Linked DNA regions of Homo sapiens: region 1 is linked to region 2. The links come from fine-mapping of genetic effects on plasma protein levels. A gene starts in region 2. The other region holds a variant in brackets. All regions are shown on one strand. Distances are from middle to middle. Region 1 holds the start of MAPK8IP3-AS1 (MAPK8IP3 antisense RNA 1). Region 2 holds the start of NME3 (NME/NM23 nucleoside diphosphate kinase 3).

The links. PIP is the chance, under the fine-mapping model, that this variant and not a neighbour inherited with it causes the effect. Protein levels are from antibody-based Olink assays in UK Biobank. Linkage for the fine-mapping came from a reference panel and not from the study's own genotypes, which makes the PIPs less certain.
Region 1: its variant is fine-mapped to the plasma level of the NME3 protein (UK Biobank, PIP above 0.99).

What each region holds. Positions count from the first base shown.
Region 1 is chr16:1,706,840-1,722,143 of GRCh38, reverse strand. All of the region lies in intron 1 of MAPK8IP3 (mitogen-activated protein kinase 8 interacting protein 3), which reads right to left. MAPK8IP3-AS1 (MAPK8IP3 antisense RNA 1) reads left to right here and starts at 7,953. Exons shown (of 2, transcript NR_184234.1): 1 at 7,953-8,142; 2 at 8,357-8,615. RefSeq lists enhancers at 1,899-2,018, 3,259-3,428, 8,157-8,206. The variant C/T (reference allele first, on the strand shown) is at 4,069.
Region 2 is chr16:1,764,428-1,772,453 of GRCh38, reverse strand. NME3 (NME/NM23 nucleoside diphosphate kinase 3) reads left to right here and starts at 911. Exons shown (of 5, transcript NM_002513.3): 1 at 911-965; 2 at 1,044-1,174; 3 at 1,283-1,384; 4 at 1,461-1,573; 5 at 1,688-2,134. The coding sequence starts at 920. The coding sequence ends at 1,805. It overlaps MAPK8IP3 (mitogen-activated protein kinase 8 interacting protein 3), which reads right to left. Exons shown (of 32, transcript NM_001318852.2): 19 at 7,995-8,026; 20 at 7,276-7,441; 21 at 6,312-6,494; 22 at 6,045-6,234; 23 at 5,806-5,925; 24 at 5,651-5,731; 25 at 5,483-5,550; 26 at 5,157-5,305; 27 at 4,719-4,890; 28 at 4,536-4,649; 29 at 4,347-4,385; 30 at 4,076-4,255; 31 at 3,828-3,977; 32 at 2,103-3,751. The coding sequence ends at 3,630. MRPS34 (mitochondrial ribosomal protein S34) reads left to right here. Exons shown (of 3, transcript NM_023936.2): 3 at 1-559. The coding sequence ends at 233. RefSeq lists enhancers at 186-275, 3,786-3,835, 7,613-8,026 and silencers at 576-1,165, 1,476-1,675.

The DNA of each region.
Region 1 (15,304 bases), 54 kb after region 2:
AACTGTGGCTAACTAGCATATGAAGAACACACACATGCTATTAATCGACTGATAAGAATTTTTAACAAAAAGTTGTCTGGGTGCGGTGGCTCACGCCTGTAATCCCAGCACTCTGGGAGGCCGAGGCGGGGGGGATGACGAGGTCAGGAGATGGAGACCTTCCTGGCTAACATGGTGAAACCCCGTTTCTACTAAAAATAAAAAAAATTAGCTGGGCGTGGTGGCGGGCGCCTGTAGTCCCAGCTACTCGGGAGGGCGAGGCAGGAGAATCACTTGAACCCGGGAGGCGGAGGTTGCAGGGAGCTGAGATCACGCCACTGCACTCCAGCCTGGGCGACAGAGCAAGACTCAGTCTCCAAAAACAAAACAAAACAAAACAAAACGAAAAAACAAAGTTTTTATAGGCCCGGAGCGGTGGCTCATGCCTGTAATCCCAGTACTTTGGGAGGCCGAGGCGAGTGGATTGATTGACTCCAGGAGTTAGATGCAACATGGTGAAATTCCGTCTCTACAAAAAAATTAGCTGGACACGATGGCATGTGCCTGTAGTTCCAGTGAGCTGGGAGGCTGTGGTGGGAGGATCACCTGAGCCCAGGAGGTCGGTGCTGCAGTGACCCCAGGAGGTCGGGGCTGCAGTGAGCCCTGAGGCTGGCACCACTGCACTCCCAGATGACAGTGAGATCCTCTCTCTAAAAAAAAAGGTTTTGTAGAGATAGGATCTCACTATATTGCCCAGGCTGGTCTCAAACTCCTGGGCTCAAGCAATCCTCCTGCCTTGGCCTTCCAAAGTGCTGGGATTACAGGCATGAGCAAAGGATTTTTTTTTTTTTTTTTTTGAGATAGAGTGCAATGGCACGATCTCAGCTCACCGCAACCTCCGCCTCCCGGGTTCAAGTGATTCTCCTGCCTCAGCCTCCCGAGTAGTTGGGATTACAGGCATGCGCCACCACATCCAGCTAATGTATTTTTAGTAGAGATGGTGTTTTCCATGTTGGTCACGCTGGTCTCAAACTCTTGACCTTAGGTGATCCACCCGCCTCGGCCTTCCCAAGTGCTGGGATTACAGGCATGAGCCCCCATGCCCAGCCTTGTTTTGTTTTTTTTTTTTTTGAGACAAAGTTTTGCTCTTGTTGCCTAGGTTGGAGTGCAATGACATGACTCAGCTCACTGCAACCTCCGCCCCCTGGGTGCAAGCAATTCTCCTGCCTCAGCCTCCCAAGTAGCTGGGATTACAGGCACCCACCACCACGCCCAGCTAATTCTTTGTATTTTTAGTAGAAACGGGGTTTCACCGTGTTAGCCAGGATGGTCTTGATCCCCTGACCTCGTGATCCGCCTGCTTCTGCCTCCCAAAGTGCTGGGATTACAGGCGTGAGCCGCTGCACCCGGCCTGGCCTGGATATTTTTTAAAGTAGGTAAGTTTATTTCCTGTTATATAAAAAATGAAAATAATTATATAAACAATGTATGTTTCTGCAGGAAAATCAGTGTTAGGTAAAAACAGAAAAAATTTTAAATTATGAGTCTCGGTCTATAGGGTCGGTTAAAATTGTGTGACGTGCTTCTGGATTTGTATGTGTGTGTGTAGAGCAGATGTACGATCATCTTGTACACAGTGTTTTGTAACCTGATTTATTCACTGATTTATACTGAAATGCCTTTCAACACCAACAGGCGTACTCGACCACTTCCATTTTTGGCAGGTGTGTGTTCTGCTGGGAGTGTGTGTGTAGAGCACAGTTTGCTCAATCCATTATCTCTTTATGGACTTTCAGGTTGCTTTAAAATGTTTGCTACTATAAAAAGCTGGCCGGGCACGGTGGCTCATGCCTGTAATCCCAGCACTTTGGGAGGCCAAGGCGGGTGGATCACCTGAGGTCAGGAGTTCAAGACCAGCCTGGCCAACACGGTGAAACCCCATCTCTACTAAAAACACAAAAAATCAGCTGGGCGTGGTGGCGTGCGCCTGTAATCCCAGCTACTCAGGAGGCTGAGGCAGGAGAATTGCTTGAACCCAGGTTGCAGTGAGCCAAGATTGCGCCATTGCACTCCAGCCTGGGCAACAAGAGCGAGATTCCATCTCAAAAGAAAAACAAACAAACAAAAGCTGTGTGCACACACGTCTTTGTATATTCACCTGCTGGCTTCCTGCTCTCTGAGGCTGCGGTCATGCACTGCTAAGTGACTCTTCAGAGGGTGTCCCAACTTACACTTCCCCCTAAAAAGTGGGACAGTGCCCTTTTGTAGAACTCTCAACATTTCTTTCTTTTATACTTTTTGGTTTGTTTTTGAGGCTTTTTTTCTTTTACTTTTATTTTTCAATTTTTTGGGGACAGGGTCTCCCTCTGTCACCCACTGCAGCCTTGACCTCGCGGGCTCAAGCGATCCTCCCATCTCAGTCTCCTGAGTAGCTGGGCCCACAGGCACGTGCCACCACATTGGGCTAATTTTTGTGGTTTTTTTTTTTTTTTTTTTGTAGAGATGGGGTCTCCCTATGTTACCCAGGCTGATCTCAAACTCCTGGGCTCAAGCGATCCCCCCTCAGCCTCCCAGAGTATTGGGATTACAGGCATGAGCCACTGTGCCTGGCTACATTTTAGTCTGTTTCTGAGCCAGCACCACAGGTTTTTAAACTGGTGTTGTGGTGTTATGGTACTTTCTAGTATCTAATATCTGCTCTCCCTCTTACATCTTCCTTTTCAACATTTTCCTGGTTATTCCTAATTTCTCCTTCTAGATTGATTTGAGAATCATTTTGAATCACCGACATACATATTTATTTTTTGGTTATGCATTTCACCTGTCTGAAAGCACCAGGTCTCTGTCCCTTAGGAAGGGGCCATTTTTTTTTTTTCTTTTTAAAGATTGGGTCTCAGGCTGGGCACAGTGGCTCACAGCTGTAATCCCAGCACTTTGGGTTGCTGAGGCAGGAGTGTCACTTGAGGCCAAGAGTTCGAGCCCAGCCTGGGCAATATAACAAGACCTTACCTCTACAAAAAATAATTAGCTGGGCACAGTGTTGCATGCCCATAGTCCCAGCTACTTGGGAGGCTGAGGCAGGAAGATTGCTTGAGACGGGGTCTTGCTCTGTTATCCAGACTGGAGTACAGCAGCATGACCAAGGCTCACTACAGCCTTGACCTACCTACTGGGCTCAAGCAATCCTCCTGCCACAGCCTCCTGAACCACAGGCACTACAGGCGTGAGCCACCTCGCCCAGCCCCTAATGTTGAGTCGTTTTCAGTGAGAAGATGCTAGGGCTAGACTTGGGGTGAGAGAAAACTCATCTTGAGGAAGTGAAGAGTCCTCTGATGGGGCTTCTGGGGGTGGATGCTGGAACATTCTTTTTTTTTTTTTTGAGATGGTTCTGTTGCCCAGGCTGGTGTGCAGTGGTGCGATCTTGGCTCACTGCAACCTCCATCTCCCAGGTTCAAGCGATTCTCCTGCCTCGGCCTCTGACTAGCTGGGATTACAGGTGCCCACCACCATGCCCGGCTAATTTTTGTATTCTTAGTAGAGACAGGGTTTCACCATGTTGGCCAGGCTGCTCTTGAACTCCTGACCTCAAGGAATCTGCCTGCCTTGGGTTCCCAAAGTGCTGGTATTACAGGCGAGAGCCACCGTACCCGGCCTAGAAAATATTTTTATTTAAAGATCATTAGCCGGGCGCGGTGACTCATGCCTGTAATCCCAGCACTTTAGGAGGCCGAGGTGGGGGGATCACCTGAGGTCAGGAGTTCCAGAGCAGCCTGGCCAACTTGGTGAAACCCCGTCTCTACTAAAAATACAAAATTAGCCAGGCATGGTGATGCATGCCTGTAATCCCAGCTACTCAGGAGGCTGAGGCAGGAGAATCTCTTGAACACGGGAGGCAGAGGTTGCAGTGAGCCGAGGCCATGACATTGCACTCCAGCCCGAGTGACAAGAGTGAAACTCTGCTTCAAAAAAAAAAAAATCATTTACTTCTGATTTAAGAGAACCAAGAATTTTCAGCCGGGCTTGGTGGCTCACACCTGTAATCCCAGCACTTTGGGAGTCCGAGGCGGGCGAACCTTGAGGTCAGGAGAT[C/T]GAGACCATCCTGGCTAACAAGGTGAAACCCCATCTCTACTAAAAATACAAAAAAGATTAGCCGGGTGTGGTGGCGGGCGCCTGTAGTCCCAGCTACTCAGGAGGCTGAGGCAGGAGAATGGCAGGAACCTGGGAGGCGGAGCTTGCAGTGAGCTGAGATCGTGCCACTGCACTCCAGCCTGGGCGATAGAGCGAGACTCCATCTCAAAAAAAAAAAGAGAACCAAGAATTTTCAGTGGTGGGGACTTGGGGAATAGAGATGAATTTAAGTCTATAAAGCACGATTACAAAATATAAACGGAGCTGAGAAAAATAAAGTTTTAACTATCAGCATTTTTTTTGAATGGGCCTGCATAGTACTAGATTATAAAAAAATAAAAGAACTACCCAGAATACAGCACGGTAGTATCTTGGTCCCAGAGACCTACTGAAGGTGTGACAATAGCAAAGTGAAAGGTTTCTGTACACGTGCTCGTGATCCATGCTGCAGGGCAGCGTGTATTTGACACGACCACCTATCTAACCGAGTCTAGTGAAATGCTGTGTGGCATCTGGACATGAGAGGCCACCTATGGGTCACCTTTGAGCATCCCAAGGAGCAATGACTTGAGATTACAAAATGAAGGAAAACATGGGTGTCGTTCCTCAGTCGAGACACGAAACAACTCTCACATCTAGGTACCAATATGCCACAGGATTCCCTTTTTAGACATGTTTTTAAGATGTACTTCCCCATCCCTCCCACGACCAAAGGGCTCTGCTTGAAAATTAAATTCAACTTATGTTTTCAGAATTTGCTTTTTGGTGAATTTCTTTCTTTCTTTTTTTTTTTTTTTTTTTGAGATGGAGTTTTACTCCGTCACCCAGGCTGGAATGCAGTGGCACGATCTTGGCTCACTGCAACCTCCGCCTCCTGGGTTCAAGTGATTCTCTTGCCTCAGCCTCCCAGTCTCCTGAGTAGCTAGGATTATAGGCACCCACCACCACACCTGGCTAATTTTTATTTTATTTTTTTTTGAGACGGCATCTCGCTCTGTTGCCCAGGCTGGAGTGCAGTAGCACAATCTCAGCTTACTGCAACCTCTGCCTCCCAGGTTCAACTGTTTCTCCTGCCTCAGCATCCTGAGTAGATGGGATCACAGGCGCCCACCACCACACGCGGCTAATTTTTTTTATTTTTAGTAAAGATGGGACTTCACTGTGTTAGCCAGGATGGTCTCGATCTCCTTGACCTCGTGATCCGCCTGCCTCAGCCTCCCAAAGTGTTGGGATTACAGGCGTGAACCACTGCGCCTGGTCATACCTGGCTAATTTTTGTATTTTTGGTAGATACGGGGTTTCGCCATGTTGGCCAGGCTGGTCTCAAACTCCTAACCTCAGGTCATCCACCCACCTCAGCCTCCCAAAGTGCTGGGATTAGAGCCGTGAGCCACCATGCCCAGCATTTTCGGTGAATTTCAAGATACATATTGAAATAACCTGGCTGGGCACAGTGGCTTACTCCTGTAATCCCAGCATTTTGGGAGGCCGAGGTGGGAGGATCACGAGGTCAGGAGTTTGAGACCAGCCTGACCAACGTGTGAAACCCCATCTCTACTAAAAATACCAAAATTAGCCAGGCGTGGTGGTGCGTACCTGTAATCCCAGCTACTCAGGAGGCTGAGGCAGGAGAATCTCTTGAACTCAGGAGGCAGAGGTTGCAGTGAGCCGAGATCGCGCCACTGCATGACAGAGGGAGACTCTGTCTCAAAAAAAAAAAAAAAAAGAAATGACCTGAGAGCATAGGGTCTTCGAAAATCTAGTAATCCAAGCCAGTTTTTTCAGTATTCCATAGAATGATATCATCCTTCCTTTTATATGTAAACAAAGTTAACGCAGTGACTGACTTTTAATGTCCAATATAAAATCAAGATGACAGTATTCTGGACTCAGAATGTCAGAGCAATGGCCAGGAAAGTTCTTTCACAGGGCGATCAACAGGCTTTTGGTAACTTTCACAACCCATGGACACTTTCCTGCTGAGTAAAGTAATACATTAAATCCAAACCTCGGCCGGTGCAGTGGCTCCCGCCTGAAATCCCAGCACTTTGGGAGGCTGAGGTGGGCAGATCACGTGAGGTCAGGAGTTCAAGACCAGCCTAGCGAACATGGTGAAACCCCATCTCTACTAAAAATACAAAAAATCAGCTGGGTGTGGTGGTGGGCGCCTGTGATCCCAGGTACTCAGGAGGCTGAGGCAGAATCGCTTGAACCCGGGAGGCAGAGCTTGCAGTGAGTAGAGATCACGCCATTGCACTCCAGCCTAGGCGACAGAGTGAGACTCCATCTCAAAAAAAAAAAAAATCCAAACCTCTCCTCTCATACGTTTGTTAGGCCAGGCTCACCAGCGAGAAACAATTCAGCTCTGGCTGGTTGGTTAGAAACGAATCTTGACACGAATCAAAGATCTCGTTCTTGTGCAATACCGATCAATTTATTTCCTTCCCTGGGAATGAGGGTGTAGTATGAATTTCCAAAGGAAAAACGCTCATTTTTGGTCTTTTATCTTAAGCAGGCAGACAGGTGCCGGGCACGTGCCTGGCAGATGCCCTTCATGGCTAGTTCCCAGGTACGGGCAGGGACCTCGCATGGCTGTGGTTACCCTGGGCTGGCAGGGGGCAGTCAGAGCTCTTTCCATTTCCCACAATTGCCTGGCCACCTAGGTCTAAAATGCAGAGAGAGGACGTGCAGGGGGTGGCTCTGGAGTTACAAAGCTGCCCCTGAAGCCTGCTGGACGGGACACGGGTCGAGGGAAGGACATTTCTCCATTCAGGTATTACGTGTGGGGCTGAGAGAGCTGGCCACTAGCTCGGGACTCCAAAAACCAGGTTGAAAAGCAAGGCTTCCTCACGTTCTGTGAAAGGGATGGCTGGGTTCAGTGTCCACGTAAAACAAATCCCAACTGGTTGAATACGAACTGATTTCAAGAATGGGTAAGACAGATGGGAAATAGATATATATATATTTCCCATCTGTCTTACTAGTACATATACATTTGTATTGGGAAATATATATATAAATTTATATGGTTGGTACCAGCGGAAGAAAAATGAAGATAAAACCAAAACCTCAAGTTAAGTGTCCCATCCTATGAAACATCTCCCTGGGAAAAATTATTCTCAAGTAAACTTTTATTCTCTGGTGCATTCTTAGGAGTTTACATTGGCTTCTGAAACTTCCTAATCAGCCCCAACCTCCGACTCCCTCTGGTTCCACTGAACGAGAGGCCTGCTAACCGTGCCTCAGTTCACTCTTCTCAGTAGCCAAAGGGTCCCTGCTCTCAAAACATGAATGCTCTAACCCGAGGCAGGGACATAGAGACACACGTGTGCAAGGGCCCACTGGGACTGTGCGTATATCTGGGAATTCATTTCCTGGGGAGAAGGAAAGGTGATGGGCAGGCTGGCTGAGGAAAGGTTAGGGAACAGGAGCCCCAAACTCCCCAGAGGCCTGGGGAGGAAGGGGCCCCCCGAAACTTTAACAAAAGGCAAGTTTTGAATCTGGTTGTTGATAACAAGAATTGAAATGTCCTAGACCCTGTGTGAGAAACGCACCACACGGAGGAGAGGTCTTGAGGAAAGGCCCTGTCGCGTTTCACGTGGCACGCCCTGGATCTCTTGCCGTAACAGTGGCTCAAAAGAAAATGCACCAGAGTAATGATGCTGTGGGCTCTAAGGGTCTCCGCAAAGACGCACCCCCCTCATAAGCGGATTCTAGTCTCTGGGTTTCACTGCCAGCCTGCCCCAGAGCAGTGCTTGGCCCAACACCCTGCCAACGGGGTGAGCGGGCTTACAAACCGCTCATGCGTGAAGGTTACGTAAAAACAAGCCGCCCAGCTCCCCTGCAGGCAGGCGGATGGACAAACGGCACTGCTGGGACCCTGCTTGGCCATGGGGGAAGGACACACACAGCCTGGGTGAGTCCCCGAATCACTGTACCGAGTGGAAGATGTCAGAGGAAACCACGTACGCACTGCAGGAGGCCATTATGCAAAGCTCTAGAAGATGCAAATTAACCTACAGTGACTGAAGGCAGGTCAGTGGTTACCTGGGGACAGGTGGGGCAAGGAGGGGTCGGAGGGGGATTACATAGGACACAGGGAACTCTGGGGTCCGGGCGTCTACGCTGCTTGGACTGCAGGGATGGCTTCTGGTGTTTATACGTATTTCAAAACTCATCAAATTGTACTCTTTAAGTATGTACAGTTCAGTGTATGTCAATGATACTGCAATAAAATTGTTACCCACAGAAAGAAAACAAAAAGCAGCCCAAGGCGAAAAAGTCGATCCTGTGCCCTGAGCACAGGCAGTCCTGAGGTGCGAGCGGTTTCCCACCAGGCTCTTCTTGGCCTTTCGAGAACTTCAGCCCCTCTCTGCTGTTTCCTGTTGCTGGCATCCACTTTCCCATCTCACAATATTTTCTCCTGTCTGGTCTCCTGTATCTGAAACCCACTGCTACGGGATCTCCCCTCTTTCTGGAAAATGTTCATTAAACAGGAAACAAACCCACCCTTTAAGCATCTTCCTTTCTTGCATGAAGCTGAGTAACTCACCATCTGCCCTTGCTTCCAGGCAGCTCAGCTAGACTGCCCACAGCCACACTGTCCAGTATGGAAGCCCTGGCCACATGTTTACATTAATTAAAATAAAACACAGCCGGGCATGGTGGCACGAGCCTGTAGTCCCAGCTATTCGGGAGGCTGAGATGGGAGGATTGCTTCGGTCCAGAAGTTTGAGACCAGCCTGGGCAACGTGGCGAGACCTCATCTCCGAAACAAGTAAATACAACTAAAAATCCAGTTCCTCAGTTCCATGAGTCATGCCTAAAATGCTCAACGGCCCTATGTGGCCAGCAGCTACTGAAGTGGACAGCACCAAATACAACATTTCCATCATCCCAGAACGTTCTGTCAGAAAGGCTGCTCCAAAGAGACAGTCCTTGACCTTCCGGAACTGCACAGTTTGGTGAGATGTGTGCAGAGACAGAGGAAAGCCGGCTTCCCTTTATCCACACACACAGATGGCCAGCATCTCCGGGTGTGCCGAGAAAAGGAAACAACAGGCTCAGGCTGAATGAACCAAAGGGTGCCGGCCCCTTGTTGGCAGGGAGCAGCTTAACTTGCGGAAGCCGGGAGAGAGGCCTGGTGGGGGCCCAGCTCCCCAGGCAGGGGCGGCAGAGTGGGTGATGGGGGCTTCTCTGCAGGTGCACTGCGGAGGCAGACACCAGCGAATCCGGCAGAGACGGGAACTAGCCAGATAAACCCCGAGGGAGGGGTGGGGGCAGGTGGTCTAGGAGGCAGGAACTGCAGGTCTGCAGAATGGGGGGCAGCCAGAAGACCAGAGGCAGATGAGGCTGGTGAGAGGTGGGCCCAGTGGGGGGCCACCTGGGGAAGACAGCCTCACTCTGTCCACCCAGTGTCCTGGCCCACCTTGTCACTCAGATCCCCTCATGTTATCACCACCTGAGATGTCCAGTCTGCCCCAGGAGAGCAATCAGCTAATCCCCCTGCCTGGAATTCACCCTAGCACTCAGAGACCAGATATGCTTTGTGAGGGTTCTCTGGGCTGGCAAAGTGGCGGCGGTGGGAGTGGCCGGGAGACCCTGGGATGGTGGTGACTGGAAGCAGAAGGCAGCAAAGGAGATGAAAAGTGGGGACATTAAAGAACTCCTGAGGCTGGCCGGGCGCGATGGCTCATGCCTGTAATCCCAGCACTTTGGGAGGCCGAGATGGGTGGATCACGAGGTCAGCAGATCGAGACCATCCTGGCTAACACGGTGAAACCCCATCTCTACTAAAAATACAAAAAATTAGCCGGGCGTGTTGGCGGGCACCTGTAGTCTCAGCTACTCGGGAGGCTGAGGCAGAAGAATGGCATAAACCTGGGAGGTGGAGCTTGCAGTGAGCCGAGATTGCGCCACTGTACTCCAGCATGGGTGACAGAGCGAGACTCCATCTCAAAAAAGAAAAAAAAAAAAAAAAAAAAAGAACTCCTGAGGCCAAAAGAACACCAGGACCTAGTGGCGGCTAGATACTTGGGGTGACAAGGGGAGCTCGGGACCTCAGTTTTCTTTTTTTTTCTTTTTTTTTTTTTTTGAGACGGAGTCTCCCTCAATTGCCCAGGCTGGAGTGCAGTAGCGTTGCAATCTCGGCTCACTGCAAGCTCTACCTCCTGTGTTCAAGCGATTCTCCTGCTTCAGCCTTCCAAGTAGCTGGGAGTACAGGTGTGCATCACCATGCCCAGCTAATTTTTGTATTTTTAGTAGAGACGGGGTTTCACCATATTGGCCAGGCTGGTCTCGAACTCCTTACCTCATGATCCACCCGCCTCGGCCTTTCAAAGTGTTGGGATTACGGGCGTGAGCCACTGCGCCCAGCGTTGGGACCCCAACTTTCAACAGGGCAAAGGAAAACAAGTCCGGAGAGCCGGCACCCCATGCAGCTCCTGGGCAAGCTTCTGTAGTGATTTTCATGCACTAACAGCTCATCCTCCAGCCCTGGTAATAAATGGGAACCTGGGAAAGGGGCCCATCCAAAAATCTTGTGCCCCTCACCTGATGCCCATCTGGCACAGATTAAGGATCTAGGAGGCTCTGCATGCCATGGGTCTTCCTGCTGAGGCCTGAGGACATGCTCCATATCTGGTCCCCAGGGCCCATGAGCCAGACTGAGGCACAGCTGCAAAGTGACTGAACTGTGTTGTCGCAATGGTCAAGGTCAATAAGAGCAGAGAACGAGGGGCCACCGCAGAACACAGGACACAACAAGGACACAGGGACCCCTGAGCCCCTTACACAGCCAGAGAAAGCAGCGTGGGAAGACGCCTGCACTTGGGAAGCTGGGTGAGGAGTGTTAATTCTGCAACCTTTCTGTACATATTTCAAAATGGTTTTTAAAAACGTAAAAATGAAACAGATATTTCATTTAGAAATCTTAATTTTGGAAGAACTGACTTCTCTCAGCTCTCGGCCCTGTCTGACTGCTGCCAGCGTGGCCCGGGGGCTCCCGCAGCGGAGCGGCAGAGGGGCAGGCTGCGCCCAGCGGCCTCCGGGCCACTTCGGCCTCTGTCCCGTGTTCTCTCTGGCTGGCAGGTACCTCCTTCTCCATGGTTCCTACATGTATTTGCTCCACTTTTTAGGGAGACTGCTGTACTCCTGGTGAGTGGTACAGCTACACCAGGCCAGCTTTCAGAGGCACCTAGGAAAGGCAGCTCTGGCAGCCCCATCTTGATAGCTTCATTTAAAAAACATTTTTTAAAAAACTGTTCTTAATATCATAACATGGCAGGAAAAGAAATCGCATACTCTGGCCAAGCAGTGGTGGATTTACTATTTGTCATATGAAAAACAAAAATAAAAATTTCTGATTCAGCATCTTAATTCATTGATGGAAAAGACTTCCTGCAGATCGTCTGGCGCAGAGGAGAAAAAAAGAAGGAAAAATGGCAGACTGATCATCTCTGTAGAGCGGGATTATGGTGTTTGTTTTCTCCAGCTGAATCCTACCCAAATAGTCTATGAAATGGATGACATTTATTTATTTATTTTTATCTATTTATTTATTTTGAGACAGAGTCTCACTCTTGTTGCCCAGGCTGGAGTGCAGTGGTATGATCTTGGTTCACCACAACATCTGCCTCCTGGGTTCAAGTGATTCTCCTGCCTCAGCCTCCCGAGTGCTGGGACTACAGGGGCCTGCCGCCACACCTGGCTAATTTTTTTTTCTTTTTTTTTTCTTTAGTAGAGACAGGGTTTCGCCAGGTTCGCCAGGCTGGTCTCAAACTCCTGACCTGAGATGAGGAGGTCAGGAGTTCAATGTCAAATGTTGGGAGGCTGAGGTGGGAGGATTGCTTGAGTCCAGGAGTTTGAGACCAGCCTGGGCAACATAGCGTGACCTCATCTCTCGCCTGCCTCAGCCTCCCAAAGTGCTGGGATTACACATGTGAGAGTCGCTGCGCCTGGCCGGTAACTTTTATTTAACTCGGAAAAAATAAGTTTTGGATAAAACTGTCTTCCCTTGCATCCTTTCCTTACATAGCATCAAATGCCGAATGATCAGCAAACATCACCATCTGGGCTTGTTGAGAGAACACCCACTCCAGCTGCCTGCCATGAGCCTGGGGGGTGTTACCAGCAGCAGTTTCTTTAGGGTTAAGAAGATTTTAAGGCAAATAATGACCACTAATATTCACATGTCATCTCTCACACCTTATTTTTCCTCTTGTAAGCTAAGCAGTTGATCACTATGGGAGAAGGGCTCTTTGCTGCCCGGGTAAGCCCGGCAAACGTGGTGGCTCTGCCCGGCCCTCCTCTGGAGCTGCACCGGACGGTGCGTGTGGAGGCAGCATCTGCTCCTTGCCAGCCCCCACCCCGTTCAGCTGCTGTTTCCCACCTTCTTCTTTTCCACTGGGAAATAACTTGAGGGTTTTAAAAAACTTTGTATCAGAGCCTGCACAACCAGAAACTGCACTGTCTGGTAGGCGGCTAGCAATGTCCGGTGCCTGCCGTCCACGGCGGCCCTGAGAACCCGTCAAGGGTTCTGCCCTGACTCTGCTACATCTGCCTGCCCACAATTCTCCAGGCAACCAACAGCCAGTGATGGTGCTTGGATCTTGAGATGAAACTGACTTGCAAAGTCCGCGGCCACTGCAGCCCAGCGAGGGGAAGAGGATGGACCCAGGGTGTGTGGCTCCTGAGGGCCGGGCTGACACTCAGGCTGGGGTCTGCAGACTCCACGGCTTGGGTCAGTCTCTCGGGAGACCCCACCCTCTCTAGCTCCTGTCACTCTCATACACTCAGCTGCCTGTTATCAGAGCACATTGGGAGTCACTGTGGTAATGACCGGCAAGAAGATGGGAACAGGGATGTCTGCTCTGCTCAGGTTTTTATAAAACCCTGCGGATTCTGTCTGCTCAGAAGCTGCAGTGGCTCAGGTTACCCATCTCTGACTAAGCCTTCTTGAGCAGAGTGGCTGGGGACGGAGCTTCTGCTGACAGCTCACCCAGGAGCTCCTCTGCAACAAGACACGCCTGCAGCGTGTGACGTCCCGCTCCCCTCTTATCAGACACACGTCTATGTGATCACAAGTCCCTGCCTAGAAAAGACGCCGACCCACAGGGCACAATGGTCTACAAAGTTGGAAATGAAGGTCTGCTTGATTCAGTAGAGGAGTAGGCATGCCAAATGTTGACAGCATCGAGCCCTCTTCCTTAGTTGTAAAGCCCTGAGGTCTTTCCAAGGGCGCCCCGTTAGCGTTTAATCATAGCCTCCATGCTGGCCAAGCATTGGCTGGCTTCGGGGCTCGGCTCCCGAAGCTCTCGGTGCAGCTTCTCTAAAGCGCTGGGGCAATGGTGGGTCTCAGACTAAAGGTGATAGCTTTGCAAACCACACGCACACCCGCCAGCTTGGTTCAGCAGGAGCCCTGGGGGAGGGCAGATGCACTCACAGCAGCTTGCATGTGAACCGCACAGAGCTGGGCAGCGCCTATCCTGTGCACAGCTCATTTTTAAGCGGCAAGGTTATAATTCCTAGCCTTAACGTTGTCCATCTTGATTTTCTCCTTTCAGTTCCTTCTCGTCCACTATACTGACCACACAGGTACAAGGTGAAAAAAAGAAACCCACCTGAAATCCAGGTCAGGCCACTGAGTGTGGGAGAGCAGTGGAGGGCGGTGCCCAGCACAGGGGGCAGCCACAGCTCCACAGCTGAGCGAGGGCAGCCCTGGCACTCCAGGCTTCTGGGGAGCAGCCCTCCGGTGCCTGCAGCTGCCTGACATGGAAGCAAGTGCCCAGGCCGGTGTCGGGTTCACTCTGCATCCTGGCTGGGCACTTCTGGGGTGGGTGACCTTGGTTCAGCCCCTCCACTTCTCAGGACAAGTTTCCTTCCCAGTAAAATGCCTATAGTCACCCTGAGCTCCAAAATCCATGAACCTTTGCGTTCCCTTAGGTTGAGAGCTTTAACTCAGCTTTGCTGGAACCGGGGCATTCCAATCAATGCATAACCACCTCGCGACAGACACGAAGCCCAAACGCAATAGAAACCACAGGAAAGGAGGAATGATACAACATACTGTTATGATTTTTATAAACACGCTTTAAACCAAACTAGGCCATAAATCACCTTGGTTTCAGAAAAAGCCAAAATACTGACACAATCTTTTATTTTCCTATTAAAGTCAAGAATGTGTTAAGCCGAATTAATTGAAAAGGAATTGAAGCTCATTTCCTAAGACACTTCTATTCATAAGTCAAACAGCATTACCTAACTCCTAGAATGAGAGAATTTCTGGGCTTGGAGATCGCCTAGTGCAATTCACTCCTTTGATGGAAAATCGAACCCCAGGCAGGCGACAGGCCAAGGTCACAGAGGCAAAGCAGGGATGGGAACCAGCCTCCCTGAACCTGTTTCTGACAAAGGGCGAGGTTCTGGGCCCACACACAGGCAGGCCGAGCTCAGTATCTGACGGTGAATGAATGAAGCTAAGTGGTGCTCCCCACAGGGCCCGGCTCTTGTAACTGCTTCACAGACAAGCGATTTCCAGGTTATGGAGACATCCTAGCACAGAATTAAACGCTTCAAACTCAGACTGTTAACTCCTCAGAAGCCAGAGTGGAGTTTCTCAGCCCTGGCTACATCAGCTAACAATCTCGCCAAGCAAGGAACCAAGGGGGCAAAGACATCACCTCCAGAAACTCGAGTGTTCCTTCTGCTGACAGAGGAGCAGCCCGCCTGCGGCCTTGTTCTGTGTTTACATCAACCACCCAATTCACCCGTGTCACAGACCTTCAAAATACGGGATTAGGGACAAGGGAAAGGTCTCCAACATCATCCACAGACGGCTGCAGCCCCCTAAGAACACCAAAAGATTCCTTTTCTAGATGGGTTTAGAATGGCAGCCAACAGAGGTAGCACTTGGGGTCGGGAAACGGTTTTGACTGAACACACGCACGAAAGCAAAGGCAATTGTCATGCAGAGGTGGGTGGGGAGGGGAGAGTGAGGCCTGGCTTTGAAGCTGAGCTCCCCGGGGATGACGCCAGGCACATCGGGTTTGGGGCTGAAGATTCAGGGCTGGGGGCACGGAGGAGGGGGCCAGGGCCCAGGCCTGGGCGGAAAAGGGGGTCCCCGGGAGTCGGGGTGGGGTCCCGGGGCAGGCGGGGGAGTGCTCTAGGGAGGTGTCTCACGGCGGGCAGAGGGGGTGGG
Region 2 (8,026 bases):
TGCCCAAGCACGAGGAGGAGGCCTTCACCGCGTTCACGCCGGCGCCGGAAGACAGCCTGGCCTCCGTGCCGTACCCGCCTCTCCTCCGGGCCATGATTATCGCAGAACGACAGAAAAATGGAGACACAAGCACCGAGGAGCCCATGCTGAATGTGCAGAGGATACGCATGGAACCCTGGGATTACCCTGCAAAACAGGAAGACAAAGGAAGGGCCAAGGGCACCCCCGTCTAGAATGCCAGAACCAGCGGGTGGCCTTAGGGGCTGTGAGGCAGTGGGGACCTTATTGATGAAAGAAACCGTCTTTGCGTTACACCCGAGTCTGCCTCTCGGAGCAGGGAGCTCACCTTCCGCGACGTGTTCTGAGGGTCTGCATCTTAGGGGGGAGGGCTGGGGCAAATCGCCACCTGTGCCTTTCCTCTGGCCCTGCTGCCCCCACACCCAACTCCGAGGGCCCACGCTGGGGAAAGCGGGAAGCGCTCGCTCCCTTTCCCCCATTAGTGCTCTCTCTGCCTGGATCCCGGCAGAAGCTATGAAAGGGAATAAAGAGAAAAGAAGTACCCAGGGTCGTGGTGTCTTTGCGCTCTGTCTTTAGGACCGGGGAGAGAAGGGCTGACGCTGTGGTCGTGGCCCTGGCCGGGGGGGCGCGGGGGGGGCGGGGTTCGGGCGGTGCGGAGCAGGGCGCCGCGTGGGTGGAACCACCTGGGCGGGTTGTGGGGGATACAGTTAGTGTCCGAGCTGCTGGAGGAGACTTGGCCTCCGCAGCTGCCCTCCGGCCCCCCACGGCTGCCGGGTTCCGGGGTGCAAGTGAAGCAGCCTCCCCGCGGAGGCCGCAGCGCCCCGACCAGGCCTCTTTAAGCGCAGGCCCCGCCCCGGGCGCCACCGCCCCGCCCCGCGGATCCCGCTCCCGCACCGCCATCATGATCTGCCTGGTGCTGACCATCTTCGCTAACCTCTTCCCCGCGGGTGAGCCGCGCGGCGCGGGCCGGGGGCGGGTGGCCGGTGCTGGGCCGGCCTGACGGCCCGTCCCCGCCTGCCCCGCAGCCTGCACCGGCGCACACGAACGCACCTTCCTGGCCGTGAAGCCGGACGGCGTGCAGCGGCGGCTGGTGGGCGAGATTGTGCGGCGCTTCGAGAGGAAGGGCTTCAAGTTGGTGGCGCTGAAGCTGGTGCAGGTGGGGGCGCGGTGAGCGAGCGGGGGCGCGGTGTGGGGGGAAGGGGAGCGGGGACCTGGGGACGCCTAGGTGCCGGGTGCGGGCGCAGGCGGCCTGACCCTTCCGCAGGCCTCCGAGGAGCTGCTGCGTGAGCACTACGCCGAGCTGCGTGAACGCCCGTTCTACGGCCGCCTTGTCAAGTATATGGCCTCCGGGCCGGTGGTGGCCATGGTGAGTATCCGGGAAGCGGGCGGGCGGCTCCGGGACCCCCACCCCCGCGTGATACCGCGCCCGTTCCTCCGCACAGGTATGGCAGGGGCTGGACGTGGTGCGCACCTCGCGGGCGCTCATCGGAGCCACGAACCCGGCCGACGCCCCGCCCGGCACCATCCGCGGGGATTTCTGCATCGAGGTTGGCAAGTAAGGCCCGCCCCGGGGACGGTCCCAGCCCCGTCCGGCCTCCCCCTGTTCAGCCTGCGTGGTACCCGTGCCGGAGGTCTCTTTCCCACGCTCACACGCGCCTCTTCCGCGCAGGAACCTGATTCACGGCAGCGACTCGGTGGAGAGTGCCCGCCGCGAGATCGCTCTCTGGTTCCGCGCAGACGAGCTCCTCTGCTGGGAGGACAGCGCTGGGCACTGGCTGTATGAGTAGCCCGGCAGATGCGCGTCACAGAGGCTCTCACACTCCAGCCTCCTCCAGGGCCCAGGTGGGCGGGCTTCTGGCCCCACCCCACAGCGCTTGGAGCATCCCTTTGGACGGGCTGCTGAACATCCACCTGTCTGGACGTTGCATGGAGGGTGGCGCAGGCCTCTCCAATCCCTGGCGTACAGGGTTTCCTGCCCGAGGAGCTGCTCCAGGAGCCTGCGCGGCTCGCCTGGAAACGTGCCAGGACACTGTCCTGGTGCCCAGCCCAACGTGGTCCAACGTTTTTTTATAATAAAGTCCTCGTTTTCGTTTCGATTTGGGCCCAGGAACAGGCAGCTACGACGTTAAGACATTTATTACATACAGAGCAGATATGTGGGTTTGCTTGCAGGGCCAAAGCCTGAGGAGAATCGTCACCCCTCCCCCAGCCGCCCCACTGCTCAGCCCGGAGTCACTTCGAGATCCTGGGGGAACAGACGAGGGAGCGGACATACATCACAGTGGAGGTGGCAGGGTGGTGGGGAGAAGCCGGCAGCGCAGCGGCTGCAGCCCTCGGTGGCCAGCGGGGCTTGTGGGGCAGCTCCCCAAGATCTGTGCTTCTCTGGTTGGGGGTGGGTGCGGGGGCTGGGCTGCCCTCATAAGGGCCTCCCAGACAGGAGTGCAGTGGGCCTGGAAGGTAGGAATAGGCCAGAGAGGCCCAGCTGGGCAGGGAGAGCAGTCCAGGGTGGCGTCTGCCCTCTGCGGGCTTGGAGTCGGCTGGGGGCGGCTCCATCCTCAGCCCCACGGGCCTCTGCTTGGTGGCCTCTCTGTTGCTCCCTGGAAGCAGGCCACAGCGGGCAACCCTAGGCACTTAGTAGCGTGTCTGGGAGCTGGGCTCCGTGGAGCCCCGTGCAGGAGGCAGGCCCCGGGAGCACATCATCCCCCATCAACCTGAGGCTGAGCCTGTGTCCTAGGACTGATCCCGGAGAGGCCAGGGGCCTCCCCTTCTTCCTGAGGCCTGGGCCTGCCCTGGCAGCCTGAGAAATCCCACCCTGGGGGCTTCTGGGAGGGACAGGACTCCAGGGCCCACTCCTCCAAGGTGAGTCTTCTGCCCAGGCAGAGCCTGGGGGGACACGGGTCAGAACGGGGCTGGCAAGAGCCTGCCTGCATGGGCAGGATGGGGTAGCAGTCTCTGTTCTCAAGCAGCTGCCCCAGGGAGCCGGGCCTCGTGCTTTTATGCCAGCTCCCTGGGCAGGGGACAGCTGGGGTGGGGACAGACAGGATAGAGGCTTGACGACGGGGAGGCCCCAGAGAAGGCCGGCTGGGGTGCAGGCACCTGGGCAGCCTGAGGCCCACCTCCCTGGGCAAAGGCTAGTGCCTGGCCCAGCTCCCCTAGGCAGAGTGAGGGCCCAGGAGGCAGGGTGGCCCCATGAGCAGCATGCAGAGGTGGGCCCAGGGCAGGCAGCCTCGGCGGCGGGGAGCCCCTGCCTCCTCCAGGGGTGCTGGGGAGTAGGAGGCCCAGGGTAGAGCCAGGACCACCTCGGATTCTGCCTGCGCTGGGCCCAAGGTGCCCTGGACTTGAGGACTCTGGGCTGGAAGCTGGCCAGGAGCTGCCCGGGAAACTGTCCCGAGAGCATCTTCCCCTCGGGTGGAAGTTCCCCTCCCCTCCTCCTCCCAGCTGATCCGCATCCCCGCACTCCCTGCCCGCTGGAGGGGCCAGACTCAGGTGAAAGCTGCAGGTTGAGAGGTTAGAAGAGGGGCGGCGGCGCCTGGCTGGCTACCCCGCGGGCCGGGCGGGGGTCAGGTGGTCGGGGGTCCTATGTACAGGTCGGGCCAGGCAGGGCAGCAGCTTCACTCGGGGGTGTAGGACACCTGCCACACGATGATGTGACTGCGCTCTGCCTTGGACAGCACGGGCTTCACCTGGCTCATGTCCCCTGCGCCCTCCTCCGTCTCGTCGTCCTCTCCGTCTCCTGCGGGCAAAGCAGCAGAGTGACGGCCAGGCTCCCCCCGCGCCCAACCTCAGCCCTGTCCCTGGGCCCCGCTCACCAATGCGGAAGTCGATGTAGCCCTCCCCGCCGCTCAGCACCAGCACGTTCCGCAGCTTCTGGCCCTCGACCTCCGAGGCAGGGGCAGCTGGCCCAGGGCCCTCGGCTGGGCTGTCCAGCACACTCCCATTCAGGGTGGCCAGCACGTTCCCTGGGATGGCAGAAGCGATTCAGGACAGCGGCCTCCTGGGGGAGGCGGCGGCCACTGGCATGCAGGGGATGTGGATGGCAGGAGGGGCCCAGCCTCACCTGGCACCGAGACAAAGAACTTCACGGCATCGCGGTGCCCATGGAAGCATAGCTGGGCCTGGGCCATGGAGCAGTAGGGGATGAAGCTGCTGGCCGCCCTGTCACTGCTGTCATCGCCATACACGTGGATGATGCCCCCGGGACGGGCGCCCTCCCCAGAGGTGGGGGATGTCTTATTGGCTGCAGGGAGAGAACCCAGAGGCGCTGAGCCCGCATACAGGTGGAGAGTGGGAGAGGCTCCCGTGAGGGGACACGAGGTGGCTGGGCTTACCTCGGAGCCCCAGGAGCTGGCCTCGGTGCAGGACCACAGCTGGGGACATGGGAGGAGCATGGGAGAAGAGGAGAGCGGTCAGCGTAGGGGCAGCAAGGCACCCTCCAAGGTGGCCCTGCAGAGCCACCCCGTGAACCCACGTACACCTCTGGCAGCACCACTGCCCCTGCAGGTGTGCAGGCCACTCACTCTCTGTCAGGGGGATGGAGATGACCACTCCGTTGCCGGTGCCCACCCAGAGCCGGCTGCCCGCGACAAGCAGGGCCGTGATGCGTACGAAGGAGAAACCCAGCTTGCCAGTGCCTGTGGGGGAGAGCGGTCAGGGTGGCTGGCCTTGAGCACCCCACCACCCCATCTGGCGTGGCCCCTCACCTAGCATCTTGCTGACGTAGGGCTCAATGTCCACGTCCTGTAGATGCTGGTGCGTGTGTGCATGGTAGAGCCTCAGGGTGGAGTCCAGGCGGATGGACACCCATACGCCATCGCCGATCCACGCCAGCTGCCGCACCTGGCTCTCCCGCCGCGGGTGGGCGTCAAATGACTTCTGTGGAGTCATGGCTGCCCATCAACAGGGCTGGGGAGAGGAGAGGAAGTGGGGAGCCCCAAACCTGCCACAGCTCCAGGGCCACCTGCAGTCCCCTCAGACCTCCCAGCCAGCGCCTGCTTTGCGCCTGTTCGAGCCTGAGTCATAGGTGGTACAGGGGAGATGGGACCCACGTAGGGCCTCGTGGACTTCCGTATGGAAGATGCGGGAGAGCTGCTGGCCAGCAGGAGCCTCTTCCCCTCCCCGGGGCCCTGGCCGGCACTCGCCTCTATCTGCATGGTCTTGGGCTGGATGACGTGCACCTTGTTCTTGTAGCCACACCACACGCGGTCGTACACAACAGCCATGCAGCGGATGGAGTGGTGCGGGTGGCCCAGGTCCATTAGGTGATAGTTGCTCAGATCCCACTGGCCATCTGGAGGGAGCCCCGGACACCTGCTCAGGCCTGGCCAGGCCCCACCTCTGCTCAGGGCATCGGGTTGAGACACCCACTGCCAGACTAAGGAGAGGCCTGGAACCCCGGGAGCCCCTTGGCTAAACAATGCCAGGGCCATCAGCTGCCACCCACACACCCCGTGCTGCCAGGCCCCACCTTCACCACGGTGGAAGATGGCCAGGGTCCCGTCCGCCAGAGCCACCAGCACACGGCCTTTGACATGCCTGAAACAGGAATGCGGTGAGCCTGGTTTGGGCCAGGCTGTGCCAGCCCCCTCCGCCCCGTTCCCCCGCGCCGCCCGGCCCTCGGTCTGGGGTCACCCACACCAGGCTCAGCACAGAATCCTTCAGCTTGATGGAGTGCAGGCACTTCTTCCAGTTGGCCACAGCCGAGTGCACATAGAGCCTAGGGAAGGAAGCGGCGATGGGCGAGGGGCTCACCCAGGACCCTCCCTCCACCTTGCCCCGGGCCCTTCCTACCAGCCGTTCTGGGCTCCCAGCCACATGGTGGGTGCAGCACTGCTGCCTGCTCCCGTGGGGTCCCCGCTGGGCTCTGGCTCTGGCCGTGTGCTGCTGCTGTCAGGCTCTGGCCCGTTCTCGCTGCAGGAAGAACGGTGGCTCCAGGGGGGGCCACGGAGCACGCACCTGCCCCAAGACCCCGAGGCCCTTCCCACCTCTGCAAGCCTTCCCTCTGCTCCTGCCCCAGCCCAAGAGCTCACCTGCCAGGCTGGGGGCCAGAGGACGGGGTCGGGGCTGGGTCAGTGAAGACGTGCTCTGTGAGAGGCCCGGGCCGCAATGTGGCTGTCTCTGGCTCGCTGGGCCCAGGGTCTGGCACCTCCGTGGCCTCTGTGGCCTCCTCTGTGGACTGGGACGGGTTGACCTTCCCGTTGGCGATGGTGGCCACCTCCCCTGTGTTAGGAGAGGTGAGCTTGGGCTGGGCAGAAACGTGGGAATGAGGGGATGGGGGAAACTCGCCCAGGACTCACCCTGCCCCTTGTCTAGCACTGGGGTGTCCCCTCGGGAGGAGCAGTTGCTCCGCGGCACGTTGCAGCGGGTGGCACAGCCCACCAGGGTGATACCGGCCAGCACGCCATCTGCGCCCGGGTCCTCTGGGTTCACGTCGCTGTCCAGGAACATCTCCCCGGGAGGGTAGTCGCTGTCGCTGGCCGCTGGGGAGAGGGACGGCCCGTCAGCCTGTGCGGGGGAACCCACTACTGCAAGGGCGTGCCCAGCACTTACACAGGGGCAGAGGAAGCCGGGGCTGGCCTTCCACTTTCCCAGCAGACCCAGCTTCCACACATGCTCCACCCACAGCCCACCCACGACCCTCTGCCTGGAGGTCTGGGACTCCAGCAAGCCTGCTCTGTTGGGTAGGCCCCTGGGCCAAGGGGAGCTGAGTAGTAAGACTCTGGTTCTGGGAGCAAACAACCTGTGATCCTGTGGCAGACCCTCAGGACCCCAGACGGCCCTGTGGTTTCACACCAGAGACCTGGCAGAGCCCTCGGCACCCCTTCGTCCTCCCAGTGTTGGGGCTGGCCCAGAACATCACCAAGGCTACTGCCCACAGGGGTGACACGAAGCTCCTCACCCACACCCCCATAGCCCCTTCGGCCCAACTGGAGGTTTCACATTCAGCATGAGGAAATGTTTTCCTGTGGTCTCCGAGTGATGCTTCAAGCTGCAGGCCGTGCCCACCCGTCACCCTCTAACCAGGTAAGCGTGGGGTCCTGAGTAGGTAGGGAGAAGAGGCCGAGGCTGCCGCGAGCTTCCTCCCAGAAACAGGGCCCAGGGCCTCACTTGACTGGGTGCTGCCCCTCCCACCGTCCACTGCCACATTCCCGTGTCCACAGGACACCCCGAGAAGGCAGCTGCTGTGTGGCAGGGCTTTTACTTAGCTTGCTAGTAAAAGGGAGTGGCGCCCGAGTGGAAACGCCCACTCCAGCTGCTCACCGGGGATGCTGGAGATGCACAGCACGTGCGCGTTGCAGACGGTGAACTGGTCCACCACCGTGCCCGGCTGGTTGGCGTCGATGATCACCACCTTGCTGGTGGTCAGGGTGCTGGTCAGGATCCACACCCGGCTGGAGGTGGCGTCCATTTCAGGGAGCTCCTTGGCCTGTTTCAGGGCACGGGATCAAGGTCAGAGCCCGAGCTTGAGGCTACCCGGTGGCAGCACAGGGCCATGGGGCTCCCAGAATCTGTCAGGATCCAGCCTTGACTACAGCTTGAGGGGACATGGCTGTCCTCCCCCAGGACCAGAACAATGCGGACTCAGGACTGCACTCTAAAGCACTCACAGACACGGTTTCGCCTCCACAGAAGAGGCCCCTGAGCTCCAAGAGGCCCAAGCTGGGCATAAAACTAAGCCTCCCACCACTGGGAGGCAAGCTCTGCCGCTCCTGGGCTCCTCTGTGCCTGCTGCCTGCCTGACCCCTGCAGCCCAGTGCAGGCCCACTCCAGGCCACCTGGGGGGTGAAAACTGAAAACCCAGAAGGCGGCTCAGTCCTGGTGAGGGAAGACACTGCTTCCCGCAGTCTAGGAGCCCCTGCGCTGCCCTGCTTCCGGGTGCTGTCCCCAGCTGTCCTGTGTCTCACTCCCAGCATGCTCTGCAGCTGAGCTGTCCTGAGACTAAGCCAGGGAGGGTGCCCGGTGGCCTCGGCCATGCTCACCTTCTTCTTCTCGGGAGACGTGTGGGCGCTCT